2 separate regions of the Homo sapiens genome follow, and region 1 is linked to region 2. The links come from fine-mapping of genetic effects on gene expression. A gene starts in region 2. The other region holds a variant in brackets. All regions are shown on one strand. Distances are from middle to middle.

Region 1 (8,339 bases), 26 kb after region 2:
ATTTTCTAGGGAGAATTTCAAACCAGCTACAGAAATTTGCGTAAATAACAAGGAGCCAAATCTTAATCACCAAGACAATGGGGAAAATATCTCCAGGCCATGTCAGAGACCTTCATGGCAGCCCCTCCCATCATAGGCCCAGAGGCCTAGGAGGAAAAGATGGTTCCATGGGCTGGGCCCAGGGCCTTCCCTGCTGTGTGCACCCTAGGGACTTGGTGTCCTGTATCTCAGCCACTCCGGCCATGGCTGAAAGAGGCCAACGTAGAGCTCAGGCCATGGCTTCAGAGGGTGCAAGCCCCAAGCCTTGGCAGCTTCCATGTGGCATTGAGCCTGCAGGTGCATGGAAGTCAATAACTGAGGTTTGGGAACCTCCACCTAGATTTCAGAGGATGTATGGAAATGCCTGGATGTCCAGGCAGAAGTTTGCTGCAGGGGAGGGCTCCTCATGGAGAACCACCTCTAGGCCAGTGCAGAAGAGAAATGTGGGGTTGAAGCCCCCACAAAGAGTCCCCACTGGGACACTGCCTAGTGGAACCATGAGAAGAGGGCCACCATCCTCCAGACCCTAGAATGGTAGGTCCACCGACAGCTTGCACAGTGCACCTGGAAAAACCACAGGAACTCAATGTCAGCCTGTGAAAGCAGCCTGGAGGGAGGCTGTACCCTGCAAAGCCAAAGGGGCAGAGCTGCCCAAGACCACGGGAACCCACCTCTTGCATCAGAGTGACCTGGATGTGAACATGTAGTCAAAGGAGACCATTTTGGAGCTTTAAGATTTGACTGCCCCACTGGATTTCAGACTTGCATGCAGCCTATAGCCCCTTTGTTTTAGCCAATTTCTCCAATTTGGAATGGCTATATTTACCCAATGCCTGTACCCCTACTGTAGCTAGGAAGTAACTAACTTGCTTTTGATTTTAAGGCTCATGGGTGAAAGGTACTTGCCTTGTCTCAGATGAGGCTTTGGACTATGGACTTTTGAGTTAATGCTGAAATGAGTTAAGACTTTGGGGAACTGTTGGGAAGGCATGATTGGTTTTGAAATGTGAGGACATGAGATATGGGAGGGGGCAGGGGAGGAATGATATGGTTTGGCTGTGTCCTCACATAAATCTCACCTTGAATTGTAGCTCCCATAATTCCCACGTGTTGGGGGGAGGGGACTGGTGGGAGATAATTGAATCATGGTGCAGTTCCCCCATACCATTCTCTTGGTAGTGAATATGCCTCATGAGATCTGATGATTTTATTAGGGGTTTCCCCTTTCAATTGGCTCTCATTTTCTCTTGTCTGCTGCCACGTAAGACATGCCTTTCACCTTCCACCATGCTTGTGAATCCTCCCGCCTCAGTTTCCCAAAGCACTGGGATTACAGGCATGAGCCACTGTGCCTGGTCTTTTTCATTTTAATTGCAGACACAGTTCTTTAGTACTTGCATGCTTGTGAGGCCTCCAAAGCCATGTGGAAATGTAAGTCCATTGAACTCTTTTCTTTATAATTTACCCAGTCTTGGGTATGTCTTTATCAGCAGCATGAAAATGGACTAATATAAAGATAGTTAAAAAAAAAAAAAAACATTCACTCCAGGGTCAGCTATGATCCCAAATGATAAAATGAGTTCTGACTTTTAATTGGTTGGTTGGTTGGTGGGTTGGTGGTTGGTTGGTTGATTGGTTGGTCCTGTTAAAGAAAAAATTATTCAATGACACTTATTAAAGCACAGTAGGGCAGATTTTAGTCAGGACCATCTCCATAGGTGTAGGGACCATGGCAATGGAGTCTGGCAGTGGAAGAGATTGTGTTCGACTCTTAATATAACGTGGGCAAGTGGGAATTTATAGCCATGCAGAAGGGTGGAGAAGGAGGGATAGAAAATCCCTAAGAGGAAACATCATCGGTAAGGAAAGGGATGGGTTCTGGCTACAGTGATCCAACAGGATTCTTGCTAAAGATAGGCCAGGGTGATTAGATATTACCTGGGTGGTGGTGGAGGATGAAGAACCTGATCAGATGTTGGGGGTAGGGAGTTCCTGCTATATTGACTTAATAGTTTTCTTGCAAAAACTGGATTTTTCAAAGAATTACACAGAGGGGTATAGGAGATATGTTAAGAACCTTACTAAAGTTTGGTCAAGAAAATAATCTTTGTCATTTGGTTTAAACTCTTTCTGCTTCCTTTTCTTCACTAGCTAGGACCTAAACATGCCGACTTTGAGGTTTAGTATTTCAAAGAGCTTTGAAGTTTAATGCTGTGAGATTACATGGGACTGTGAGTTTTTCAAACACCCACAAATCACATTTAAATTCAGGCTTCCAACAACCAGTAGAAACTACATGGCAACTGGAACACGTTAGAATCAGGGTCAAGAATGAAAAGCCACCATGATGGTAAAGCACAGTGTTTTGCAACTCGACCAGTTGTCCACAACTCAAGCAAGGAGGGACCAATCTAACAAGAACAGAGATGCAAGAAATAGAACTAGCCCCAGGAAATTCAGTATTCAAGCTAAGATGCAAAGAGCCCTAGCACACCCTCTCCCCACATATACCTGCACCATAAGTATGTACCAACAGCTAAAAAGAAATGATTTTATGTTTCTTTCCTCTTAAGAGTTACAGCCATTCTTCATTCAGTCATTCATTCATTCTCAATAGTACACGTACTATGTGCCAGGTACTGTGTGAATGATGGGGATACAGTGGTGAGCAAAGCCCTTCCCCTATGGATTTCATGGTCTAGCATGTGAAGCAAAAGTCCACTAAGTCGTGACACATGTCACCAACCGAGGAGAGTGCCATGTGAGATGGTTTCAGGCTTCGAGAGGCCAGAGCAGATCAGCTGAGACTGGGGCCTGAGGCACAGCTTTCCTGAGAGGACATGGTCCTTCCTAGGTGTGAAGCATGTGCTGGCTTTAACTAGGCAAGAGACTGGGCAGAGAGAAGGAGACCCAGGAGCAGGCTTGGTGAGGCGGGCCTGTCTCAGGGCAAGAAGGAAGGGCTATGAGGGGAAGAGCTACAAGCTCAGGGAGAACTGACAAAATGGGGCCCCAAAGAGAGCCGGGCATGTCACATGGGGCCTTGATGGTCATGGCAGAATGTTAGACTTTATCCTAGGAGCATCAGGAAGCCCCTGCAGGCTCCAAGATAGATGGTGAAACACTCAGACTACCATGTCAATATGTCTACTGTGTCTGTGCCATACACACAGCACAAGGGTGGGAGCCACACTGTTCCAGTTGAGAGGGCTGGGAATTGTTCATGGGTGTGGAGACTTCCAGGGTTAAGGGTTAAGGGAACCTCCTCCCTCAGCCTCTCACACCTGGTTACAAAAGCAGGAAGTAGAATTTCAGGTTGACCAGCAGGATACTCACTCCTTATTAAAAAAAAAAAAAAATTTAAGACAAAGTCTCACTCTGTTGCCCAGGCTGGAGTGTAGTGTCACAATCGTGGCTCACTGCAGCCTCAACCTCCTAGGTTCAAGCAATCCTCCCAGCTCAGCATCCTGAGTTGCTAGCACCACAGATGTGTACCATCATACCTGGCTAATTTTTATTTCTTACTCTTTGTAGAGACGGGGTCTCACTATGTTGCCCAGGCTGGTCTAAAACTCCTGGCCTCAAACAATCCTGCCACCTTGGTTTCCCAAAGCACTGGGATTACAGGCATGGGACACTGTGCCTGGTCTTTTTCATTTTAATTGCAGACACGGTTCTTTAGTGCCTAGTATACTCTTTAAGTACCACTGGAGATTCATGACAAGAGGAAGAGTAATAGGAAAAGATTAAGATGACCAAGCCTCAGATCAGCAAGCAAACTATCAGAGATTCACAGATCTCTCTGAAAAGAAAAATGTGGCCTGAGACATTTAACAGATTCTCTATCAGGAGTGTTTCTCATATGCAGCAATATATCTGACCCAAAGGACACAATTTAGTTAATGTCTTAATAATACAGAAGTAGACTCACCCAAGCAGGTTGCTGCAAGTCAGAGATCTCAGAGATTAGCCCAATGCTGGTCAGGTTGTCAAGTGTTTGTCAGAGTGACTGGTGTGGTATTCTCCACTCTGCCTGTGGCAGGCCAGGTCTCATTAACAGCTGAAGAGGCAGGCCTCCATAACAACTGTTTCAGCACTGACTGAGTGGTTAAATATTAAAAGCTGAAAGAACCAGTGCCCTTATACAAAGGCTGGAATGTAACAAAAGCCCACAAAGAGTTTTGCCTGGGCCTTTCCTGGGCCTTGACAGGAATGACAAATAATGAAGGAATTCTTAACAGGACCCATAAAGATTAAACAAGTTTTTATTGGGGGTCTAAAGAAACTCCCCAGACCTCCACAAACAAGTTTTATTGTGGGTCTAAAGGAACTCCATAAACCTCCATAATTTAGCAGGAGACAAGATAAGGGTAATTACCCTAGCACCTGGACCCATCTAGATTAAGTAAATTTACTGAGGCTCCAGAGGAAGGTCTTCTTCGAAACTCAGACCGTAACTATAGATTAGAAGACGTTAATCACTTATGTCTTTGGATGAATACACACTTAAATGTAAACATATAGCTTAGAAGGTATATAATCCCTGAAAAACTGTAATTTTGAGCTGATCTGGCAATATTTTCCAGGCCTTC[T/A]CCTTGTACCCAGTTACAGAATTAAACTCTCTTCTTTCCTAGTTCATCTGCATCTCGTTACTGGGCCGTGAGAATAAGCAGCCTGACCCTCGGTTTGGTCTGGGAACATGCCTAGTCAAGGGCATCAATAGGGTCACAGAATAGAGATTGGTCTGTGGCCATTCAGCCTTGCCCTTTCCTGCCTCTCTTCACCCAGCCACACCTTTCCCTCTCCTTCTTCCCACCTCTCCCACTCATCAAAGGACGAGCTGGCCAATCATTTCGAAACGGGGAATACTAAAAACACAGGGGAAGTGCAGATAACTTCTAGCATTTCCTGTCCCCTCAAGAGGATACTTAACATAGATTTTCAACAAAAGAATACCATGGCCTAACTATGTGAGGTATTAATGAAGGTCAATTTATAAAAAAGAAGGAGGAAAGCTGTGCTTGCTTTCTCAGCAGGGAAGCCTATGGACTGAGCCAGGTCTGAGTTCTGTGCGCAGGCTGCCTGGATCTAAACTAGGCGCTGTTAGCAGTGCGCTGCAGGAGTGAGACTGACCTCACCAACTGTGTAGGAGCTGGGTGAGGCCTCTCGCTACCGGCTATCCCCCACTCCCCCGACGAATTCTGCTGCACAGCAGAGAAAGCCATACTCCCCTCTGGATCATAATCCCATTAGCCTGAGAACCACCCCTGCATCCCCCACAGTGGCCGCGGCAAGCCCCGCCCAAAAGCTCAGACCCGCCTAACCCTGCCCCTAACCGATGGTATTTCTCTACTGGCCCTGGTAGCATAACACAAAAGACATAAACTCTTGGGAGCTTTATGGTCCCACCCATCAGCTGAGAACAAGAATACTTACCCTGGTCAACTTAGAGCAAGCTTATGTCCCACTACTACTACTGCAGCAGGAGCTCTCTTGCAAATTCCACCTCAGGGCTGGAAGCCATTCAACTCAGACCATTACAGCAACCCTTGGCAGAAAAACACTGCTGCCAGGAAGAAGAAAACAACAGCTAACACCACTGCCTGCAACACCCTGGTCCTGAGTCTGCCCACATGACAACTTCACTGCTAGCATAACCAACATTTGAGAAAGCCTGCACACTAAACGTATTCTACAGCCAAGGAATCTCAGAGTCTACATCACTTCCCTGCCACTTCCACCCCTGCAGGTGCTGGTATCCACTGCTGGGAGACCTCAATATGGGTCGCATCACGGGACTCTTTGTAGATATTCCCCAGCACCAGACAAGAGCCTGGTAGCCCCGCTGAGTGGCTAGACCCAGAAGAGCAGTAATAATCACTGAAGTCCAGCTCTCAGGGGAAGGGGGAGAACACCACATCAAGTGATCACCTCATGGGACAAAAGAATCTGCACAGCAGGCCTTGAGTTCCAGATCCTTCTGCTGGTGGGAAGTTTCTCACATCAGAGACACAGCTGCAGTGCTGGGCACAACAGGTAAAGTTTAGGTGAGCAAGATCAACAATATCACAAATACCGAGATGAAGAGAATTGAAATAACTTTTCCCAGATTTGTTTTCCTTGCTTTCCCTTGTTCTCTCCCCCAAATCCCCTAATGACTACTTGTTGCCCTTCCCCACTCAACAGAACCCAGAACATGAAGTTCAAAAGGATAATGGAATTTATGGGGAATAAACTAGATGAAGATCCTGTCAAAAGAATTGTTCAGCACACATCTTTTGAAAGTAAGAAGAAAAACCAGATGACCAACTATGTAATGATAACCTGTGACATCATGGACCACTCCATCTCCCCATTTATGAGGAAAGCTGCCTGCCAACCATCATGAATTTCCTTGAGAACCATATTATTACATAATTAGTATTTTGGGAAAGAATATTAATACGTTTTTTCCTTTTTATTCATTTTTTTAAAAGATAGAAACTCACTGTCACCCAGGATGGAGTGCAGTGGTGCAATCACAGCTCACTGCAACCTTCAATTCCTGTGTTAAAGCAATCCTCCCACCTCCAGCCTCCCAAGTAGCTGAGACCACAGGTACACACCACCATGCCCAGCTAAATTTTTTATTTTTTGTATAGACAGGGTCTCACTGTGTTGCCCAGGCTGGTCTTGAACTTCTGGGCTCAAGCAATTCTCCCACCTTGACCTCCAAAGTGCTTGGATTTCAGGCATGAGCCACCATGACGAGCCTTATTACCTTTTTAACTAACATGATGCTGCCAATAATTCTGAGGTTTTCTCAAAATATTAATACGTCTTTGAAAGAAAATAGACTGTGATGTGTACCTGTAATACGAATTCATACTTTTTAATTATCTCTAAAGTTTCACTTTATGGAAAAAGCATTCAGAATAGACTTCCCGTCCAATCTCTCAAGCACGATTGCATTGCTTTTCAGGGACCGTTGGAGAGTGGAAGGATTACTTCTCAGCAGCACAGAATAAGAGATTTGATGAAGACTAGGGAGGAAAATGGCTGACTCTTCTCTGACCTTCCACACGGAGCTCTAAAGAGAGAGAGACAAAGTCTATACTACACAGGGGCACTTTTATTACCTTGTCTTCCAGTTTTTATTCCCCTTGTCACTGCTTTTCCCTAGAAATGACTTCCTGAGCTTGCTCAAATTGTTCAGGCAAGAACTGTAAATTACCCTTTCCTCTCTGCATGCCCCCGGAAAATAAAATTGTTTTGTTAGCTAAGGAGCTGGGTTCAACATTCTTCACAAACTGACTGAATAGTTGTAACAGAAACTGTGGAACCTTGTCAAAAGTCTGGTGGTTCAGTCTCCAAACCAAAGTTTAGAGGTCCTGAGGCCACACTGAAAGTTTAGAGGTCCTGAGGTCAGCTGGCCACGTTCTTCCACCCGTCACCTGGGCCTGTCCTTCCCAGGAAGAGCATCTTCTCTGATGGGCGCTTGGCAGGAGAACCACCCGACAGCTTTGCTAAAGTTTTCTGAGAGCTAAACCAGTCTAAGACTTTGCCTACCCAGTCTTCCTTCCTTCCCTCTTTCCTGCCCTTCTCCACAAGGGTTACTACTACACCAGGCTCTGACAGCCCTGCTCATTTATCCCTCACAAGCGTTGTCCCTCAATAAATCTCTTACTCTTACTCTATCTCAGTGATAGGCCAAGCATCTGTCTATCACTGAAAAGGGAGCAATATTCTCCCTTTGTTAGAGTGACCATTATATTTATGATTTACTGTTAAATTCAGATGTGCAAATACTAGGTTGAGTCATGTGAAATTGGTATCAAAAAAGAAAGCAAACATTCAAGAATCACAGAGGCAGCAACTTCAGAAAGATGAGAATTACTGAAATAGGATCTTGGAGGAGGGGTGTGTGGAGAAAACCCTCGCCCCTGGGGAAGGAGCACAACTTGGCCAGGTCTCTGTCCCTGAGGACACTGTGAAGACGCTGACTCTGAAGTGATCTGCACACTGGACTCTGCTGCTGCTACAGGAAGTGAATTATCTCAGGGGTACCACTCGCTGGAGCAAGAAGGCAGCAAAGGGAGCGAGTCCCTACTCCTCCTCTTGTCTGTCAGTCTCCCTGTGAGCAGAGACTCAGAGAAGACACACCAGCTGGCCCAGTGGAAACACAGATGGCACAGTCCCAGCCCAGCATCTCAAAGAAAACCTGAGACACGTGAACTAGGACATGAGAGGCAATAACTTCATGAACAGGCCAGCCAATATCTGACCTTTTTAAGCTCAAAAATGGCCATTTCAAATAGTTCAAC
Region 2 (8,339 bases):
CAATCATGTCTCAGGATTTCTCTCTTCCTTAATACAAATGTGCCACATCCCCATGCCAACAGCCATCAGCCATGGCTGGAGTGGAGCCAGGGTCAGCAAATGGAAGGATGAGTAGGAGAATATGAAAGAAAGGAGATAGTAGAAAGTGAGGGAGAAAAAGACTTGTTCCATCTTTCCCTGGGTGACTGGACAAGAATTAGACAAGAAAAGAGAAAGGGAGAATTAAAGCCAATGAGCATTGCAAAGTAAGAAAAATGGCTTGAGAGACATGTAATTATGTGAATTGCGGATGGTCAAAAACAGAAGGAAAAAAATTTAAACGACAAGGGAGCACAAGCCAGGAGAATGCTGAGCCAGTTTCCTGGATAATAAGCGAGATCCATGAAGTTACAAAGGAGTCAGAGTTTGCCCACCTAGTACCTCACCACCTGCAGGAAAGAGCTCATCTGCTCTCTTGTGGACTTGGTCAAAGGATCTGTGTGACTGAGGCAAGTGTTACAAAGCTTGCCTGAAGCAGTTGCAGCTGTAGGACATAGCACCCAGAAGGAATGGCTATGTCCCGGGGGGAGACCTTTGCTCCCGCTGCTCCTCAAAGCCAGCCTGCTGGAACACAGGCACCTTCCACTTTGTGCCAGTGGCACAAAGCAGCTTGGCTACTTTTCCCAATTGAAAACCATGATCAGATCCCTCACAAAACTCTTCCAGGAGGCAATAGTGACTTTGGTCTTTCTAGCGGGACAGAGGCTGCCGTGTAGACATTCCCCTAACTCCAAAGAAGGCACACTTTACCTGGTTCTCAGAAACAGCTCAGAAAGTTCCAGAGGTACATGAATCACAAATCAGGGAAAAATCCATGTGGATGGATTATGTATAAACCAGGGCAGGGACTAGGGTGAGGTAAGGGCATAGCATTGAAGGAGGCATTCATTCTCTTGCACGGCCCTGGAGCGAGTGTCTCCTTACATTTTGCACCTTAGTTCCCTCATTCAAGTCCCAGTCCCGGTGAAAACTAAAGTTTTTGTTTCATTCATTTGTTTATTCATTCAGTAAGTATATTAATCCAGTTGAATGGGTACATGGTACAGGTGGTCTTAGAGATAGGCCCCAATCGACACACTGGGAGGGTAGTTAATTTCCTCATTCAAGTAAAAACAGAAAATTGCTGTAAGAGAAGGCCAAATTAATCCTATGGACCACACATTGTATGATTCAATTTATATAAAATGTCCACAATAGACAAGTCTATAGAGACACAAAGTAGATTTTGGTTTCTTAAAGCTGGAGATGGTGGTAGGAGGAATTAGGCATGACTATTAATAAATATGGGGTTTCATTTTGGGGTGATGAAAATATTCCAAAATTGAGTGTGATGATGGTTGCACAACTAAAAACATTGAACTGTACACTTGGGTGAAGTGCACAGTATGTGAATTTGATCTCAATAAAACTTATTTTTAAAAAAGCATATGGTAGTTCACAGAGAGATTGCTTCCAGCTATAACCTAAGGAAAGGCTTCAAGGAAAAGATGGGTTCAAAGCTGAAGAATCTGACTCTATGGAAACAGAGTAAGAACATTTTTTTAGAGATGGGATCTCACTATGTTGCCCAGGCTGGACTCAAGTAACTGGGATTACAGGTGCACAGCAGTGTGCCAGGCTAAGAGTAAGAGCATTTTTGGCAGGGAGAAACAGGAGTAAACCAGGGAGGCAGGAAATTATAGGATGCATACAGGGGACAGTAAGTCATTCAGTTCACCTGGTGTGTGGGGCCCATGGTGGGGATGGTGTTATATTAAAGAAGGCCTTGAGCCAGGCATTCAGGAGGCTTGAAGTAGGAGGATCACTTGAGCTCAGGAGGTCAAGGCTGCAGTGAGCTATGATCATGCCTCTTCACTCCAGCCTGGGCAAAAGAGTGAGACCCTGTCTTATAAAAAATAAGAATTAATGAATTTAGAAGGTCTTGAATTCCAAGTGGAAGCACCCAGAATTTGAGCCATAAACAACCAAAGGATAGCCTGATCTGAGCTGAGCTTAATTTATATGCTGAAAGTATGAGAGACTAGTAGGGAAGAGACCAGAAATAAGGAGACTGCTAGAAGATTGTGCAACATCCCAGTTCATCCTCCACAAATGTGGAGGAAGCAGATACTAGCAGTGGTTACTAACTGTAAATTCTGGGATTGTAGAGACTGTGACCCATGCAGACAGCAAAGGCAGGGAGATGCAGCATGCAGCGCAGCATGGCACCGATACTGGCAGACACTTTAGTAGACTTAGGGACTTTAACTGCAGAGAAAATGTGAGGTTGCACTAAGAACTGTGAATCAGCCCTATGGGGCTGAAAATTGACAGCACTGGGATAAGTGGAACTGGAAAGAGAGCAGAAGTAGAAAAATAAAGTTCAGCCGGGCGCAGTGGCTTATGCCTGTAATCCCAGCACTTTGGGAGGTCAAGGCGGGCAGATCACCTGGGAGCAGGAGTTGGAGACTAGCCTGGCCAACATGGTGAGACCCCGTCTCTACTAAAAATACCAAAAAAAAATTAGCTGGGCATGGTGGCGCACGCCTGTAGTCCCAGCTACTCAGGAGGCTGAGACAGGAGAATCGCTTGAACCCGGGAGGCGGAGGTTGCAGTGAGCCAAGATTGCACCATTGCACTCCAGCCTGGGCAACAGGAGTGAAACACCATCTCAAAAAAAAAAAAAAAAAGAAAAAAGAAAGAAAAAGAAAGTTCAATTTATTGGGAAAAAAAGAGCCCTTTGGAAACAAGGAGGAAGAAGAAGTGTCGGCAAAGAAGCATTAGGAGGTTCAGGGTCAAAGAAGACAAGGAAAGCTTTGGCAAGAAGGGCAGATGGGGTGCAGAATTATGCTTCAATTCCAGAAAGGAAAGCACTGGGGTAGATACAAGGTTGGGGCTGGCAGAAGAGTAGCAGTTCAGAGATCATTAACACTTGATCCATTTAATTTCCCAGGTAACCAAAGACACCATGGAATATAATCTGCCTCCACTAAAGTGTACCTTTTGTACAATAAGGCAAAGAAAAAATAAGTACACACCTAAGCTCTAGACTTTTGTTCTATCCTCTCTGCATTTTCGGTGTGGATGAATACAACTTGGGAAGAAAGGAAAGAAGAACCAGCAGTTTTAAGCACTTACTATTTGCTCTGCAAAGTGTATTCATCAACATTGTTGCTTTCAATCTTAAAGCATGGATTGGAGACAGGCAGTATTACCCACACTTCATAGATGCAGAAATTAAATCTCAGGCTAAGGAGGAAGGAAAAGGGAGTTCACCAAATAAGCAGGAGCCTACCTGAAGCCTGATGCATCTGGTCCTAGAGCCAACCTTCCATTTCCCCCCAGCCCCCACCTGTTTAAGCTTCGAGGCCAGTGGGAGGAGGGAGGGGCCAGGCAGCTGAGGGCCAGGAAAGATGTGAAAAACTCTAGCTGGTGACCGAGAGGAGGAGTAGAGTGTGCCCTTAGTTCATATGAACTAGAGGGAGTTGGTATTTGCACAGCAGTCAGGGTCACATGAGTGATCATGGTACAGTGAGAAGTTCTCCCTCCCAGGGCCAGGTCACAGGGTTTGTTTCTGTTCAATCCGGATTCTTCCAGTAAAAGCTTCAACTTCCCACACTGAAGCTGAGAGCCTCCCAAAGTGCTGGCTACCTGCTGAGCGCCCCCGTAACTCTGACACAGTAGTAATTTGAGCCTCTGCAATTGCCGTCTGCTTCCTGTGAAAGTCCTTTCCGTGCCCACTGACCCTTGAGTGGGCCTTTGAGCTGCTGACTTTCAGCTGGAACTTGAAGGTAAGAATATGGCTTAAAAGAAATTCTGTACCTAACTCGTTAATTTATTTTTTAACCTTTAGCCACATAGGTGTGGCTTTACAGATGCATTTATTCAAACCAGAAAAGATCCTAAGAATCTGATAAAATAATATAAAAGAGTTTTGTTAACAGCCTCCAGCCTAAAAATTCAGACCTAGAAATTCAGGACCCCCCTCAAATCACCTCCAAAAGCTCTCTCTCCTGTAATACTATCTCTGTCTCCCACCCTGATCTTTTCCCAAATACCCTCCCTGTCCCATCCTCCTCCAGGGCCAGCTCAACTTCTCTGGCCAAGACTATTTCTTCTTCCATGACAGCCCTCCTCTTATGCCAGCCATTGACTAAGACACATGCTGGGCCTGCAAGGGGACTGAACCAGATCCTGTGCTCCAAGGGTCCAGACTTATAAGCAAGTAATTGTAGGACGTGGAGTAAGACCTATAAAATTTGCACACAAAATACTATAGGATCCCATGGAAAGGAGTGATTACTTCTGTTTACAGAGTCAGGGATGCCTCCACAAAGGAGGCCATAGTGATCTGGCCTGATATGATGAAAATGTCCCTGCTGGCTGCTCAAGGGGAAATGTATGTGTCTACATGCCTGACTCTCCAAGGGCAGGAACCATGTGCTGATGTGGCCCAGCAATGAGGGGCCTGGGGAGGGTGAGAAGGACTTGGGACTTCTCCTGTGGGAACTGGCAGATCCCTCTGCTCCCACTGCACTACCCAGCTGCCTCAATCTCTTGCTGCATCTCCTTCTCCCAGCTTTAGCCAGGTTCTATCACTCCCCGTGCAGGCCTCCAACAAGAGCAATACAGTGGGATCCATAGTTCACTGGACAGCCAAGCCCTTAACCGCCCTGGTCCTCAGCAGCAGCAGGTGCCCTTCCACACATGTTCACAGCTGTGCCCAGGCCCTCGGTCATCAGCTACCTGCCCAGAGCACAACGCCTACCACAGAGTTGGTCAATGTGTTGCGTGGATTATTCTCAGGGCATTAGTTCAAGGCCAGAGCCCTAAGCTCACATGTACACCTGCCTACAGGTGTACATTGGGAAGTCCCATAAATACATCAGACTCAACCCCAGAATTGGACTCACCATCCCCTCACCCCCACCCTATGGAGGACCTTCTCACTGTGTCCTTACATGGTCTTTCCTCCATGTGCACACATCCCTGGTGTTGCCTTGTGTGTCCTAATCTCCTCTCATTACAAGGATACCAGATTGGAATAGGTCTCATCCTAGCAGCCTCATTTTAACTTAATCACCTATTTAAAGACATTATCTCCAAATACAGCCACATGCTAATATACTATGAATTAGGACTTCAACATATGAACTTAGAGAGACACAATTCAAACCACGATAATGTCCGTCTTAGTCCATTTTATGTTGCTATAACAAAATACCTGAGGCTGGGTAATTTATAAATATAAGAGGTTTATTTTGAATCATGATTCTGGTGGCTGAAAAGTCCAAGAGCATGGTGCTGGCATCTGCTCAGCTTCTCGTGAGGGCCATGCTGCATCAAGACATGGTGAAGAAATAGAAAGGCAAGCAGGCATGTATAAAGGGACCAAACTCACCCACTTCTGGGAGATGGCATTAATCTACTCATGTGGAATCCACCCTTATGGCCCAAACACCTCTCACAAGACCCCGTGTCCTAGCACTGCCACACTGGCAGTTAAACTTCAACAGAGAGTTTTGGTGGGGACTAACCACATCCAAACCACAGCAGTATCCAAAAAGTGTTTTGTAGTTTTATGTTTATATATATGTATACTTTTTGTTCATAACTATGTATAAACAGTTTTCTATCACTATCACTGCCATAACAAATTATCAAAAATTTAGCAGCTTAAGACAATACAAGTTTATTATCTCACACCTCTGTAAGTCAGAAGTCCAAACAGGTGTCTCTGGGTAAAATCAAGGTGTTGGCAGGGCTGCGTTCCCTTCTGGAGGGTCTGAAGAAGAATCCCTTCCAAGCTCATTCTGGTTGTTGGCAGAATTCAGATTCATGTGGCTGTAGGATGGAGGTCCCATTTGCTTGTTGGCTGAGGTTCATTCTCAGCTTCTGGAGGTCATGCCTTGTCTTGTGTTCCCCTTTGTCTCTAAGCCATCAATGGCAAGTTGAGTCATTCTCATGCTTCCAAACTCTCCAGCCACTTCTTCTGCCACACGACTCTCTGACTGCTCTTCTACACCCTTGTCCACTTTTAAGTGCCCTTGTGGTCACATTAGACCCACCGGGATAATACAGGACATGCTCATTGCCTTAAGGTTCTTAACCTAAATTCCATCTGCAAAGCCCTTTGCCACACAATGTAATGTATTAGGAATTAGGACGTGGACATCTTTAGGGCCATTATTCTGCCTACAACAATATACATTTGAAAAAGACAGATAGAAATACATCAAAATAATAACAACTCTTGTGTGATAGATGTTTTCCTTGTACATTTGGACTGTTTCCAAAGTTTCTGCAATGTATAACTTTAAATTCACAATAAAAAAAAACAAGAGGCAATTTTTAAAGAAGGAACATAGGATTCGTATACAGATGTTGGCTGCGATCCTGGGCAAGTTATTGATCGTGTGACTCTCAGCTTCCTCACATTTATGAGGGTGATAATTATTCCTTCCTAATAAAATTGTCATATGAATTAAGAAAGAAAAAGAAAAGTCCACGAAGGACCTAACATAGAAGGCCTGCAAGAAATGTTTGTTCTTATCCCTCCTCTCCTGAATTTGATCATACCATTATCTCAGGAGTACTGTCCAAACTCCACCTTCTTTGATGTATTATAAATACAACTGCTTCTCATATTTGAAAATTTTCATAAATAATTTGTCTTTCGTTTTCCAAAAATTGTCTTCATCTTAAAGGGCTCAGCTCAATCTGGAAGCAGAAGCCACCATGAAAACTGCCCTCACTAATCTGGGCACCTAGTTTTCTCATCCATTCCATGAAGCAGCTGGGCCAGATTATTTTATTCAACCTCTAGCAAGCATGTACTGTTACATTTTCTGTAAGGACCCTTTCAGCTCCGAAGTTCTATCACTCATTTTCAGCAAAAGTTAAAATAAATTAATGTATACAAGGCCTCAGCCCAGCGTTGGCAAATTGACGTGTTCGATAAATGTTAGCTTTTAACTACTATTTCATTAGTAGTAGTAGTAATAAATGTCTTCTGGAACCCCAGTAGCCAGTTATCCTTGAGTAACAGTGATTTACATCTTCTGCTTTCTCCTTTTGGTGCATTTAAAAGTCTTCCCTCAATACAACAATGACAACACACACACACACACACACACACACACACACACACACACACACACACAATGCAAAACTGGGCAAAGCAGATATTTCTCCCACAAATGGCCAATAAGCATGAGAAGATGCTCAACATCATTAGACATTAGGGGAATGCAAATCAAAACCCCAATGAGCTATTTATCACCGCACAACCATTAGGATGGCTATTATCAAAACCAAAAAAACAAACAAAAAACACAAGAAACAACAAGTGTTGATGACAATTTGGAAAAACTGGAACCCTTGTGCACTGCTTGTAAAAATGTAAAATGGTGCAGCTGCTGTGGAAGATGCTGTAACATTTCCTCAAAATATTAAACATAGAATTACCAGATGATCTAGCAATTTCACTTCTGAGTATATACCAAAAAAAATTGAAAGCAATAATTCAAAGAGATATTTGTACATCGATGTTCACAGAGACCTAATTCATGACAGCCAAAAGTTTCCATCAATAGATGACTGGGTAAACAAAATATAGGCTGGGCACGGTGGCTCACGCCTGTAATCCCAACACTTTGGGAAGCCAAGGTGGGTGGATCACCTGAGGTCAGGAGCTCAAGACCAGCCTGGCCAACATGGCGAAACTCGGTCCCTACTAAAGTCACAAAAATTAGTCAGGCATGGTGGCGGGCACCTGTAATCCCAGCCACTCAGGAGGCTGAGGCATGAGAATCGCTTGAACCCTGGAGGCAGAGGTTGCAGTGAGCAGAGATCATGCCATTGCACTCCAGCCTGGATAAACAGAGTGAGACTCTGTCTCAAAAAAAAAAAAAAAAAAAAAAAAGGAAAGGTGTATATCTACAGTGAACTAGGGAAGGAAATCCCATCACATGCTACAACACGGATGAGCCTTGAAGAGATTAAGCTTTGGATCAAGCTTTCAATTAAGCATAAGATTAAGCTTAATTAATAAGACATTCACAAAAGGACAGATGTTATGTGATTCCACCTAAATAAGGTACATAGAGTCCATAGAGACAGAGAATAAAATGGTGGTTGCCAGGAGCTGAGGGAGGGGGAATGGGAATTATTGTTTAATAGATACAGAGTTTCTGTCTGGGATGATGAAAAAAATTCTAGAAAAGATGGTTATAATGGTTGCACAACAATGTGAATGTACTTAATGCCTCTGAACTGTACACCTAACGATGGTTAAAATGATCAATTTTATGTTATGTATA

What was found.
Region 1: its variant is fine-mapped to the expression of SULT1C2 in transverse colon (GTEx, PIP 0.99).

What each region holds. Positions count from the first base shown.
Region 1 is chr2:108,311,503-108,319,841 of GRCh38, forward strand. It overlaps the pseudogene SULT1C2P2. Among named protein-coding and RNA genes, the nearest start is that of SULT1C2, 27 kb to the left of the region's middle. The variant T/A (reference allele first, on the strand shown) is at 4,629.
Region 2 is chr2:108,285,262-108,293,600 of GRCh38, forward strand. SULT1C2 (sulfotransferase family 1C member 2) reads left to right here and starts at 3,634. Exons shown (of 8, transcript NM_001056.4): 1 at 3,634-3,809.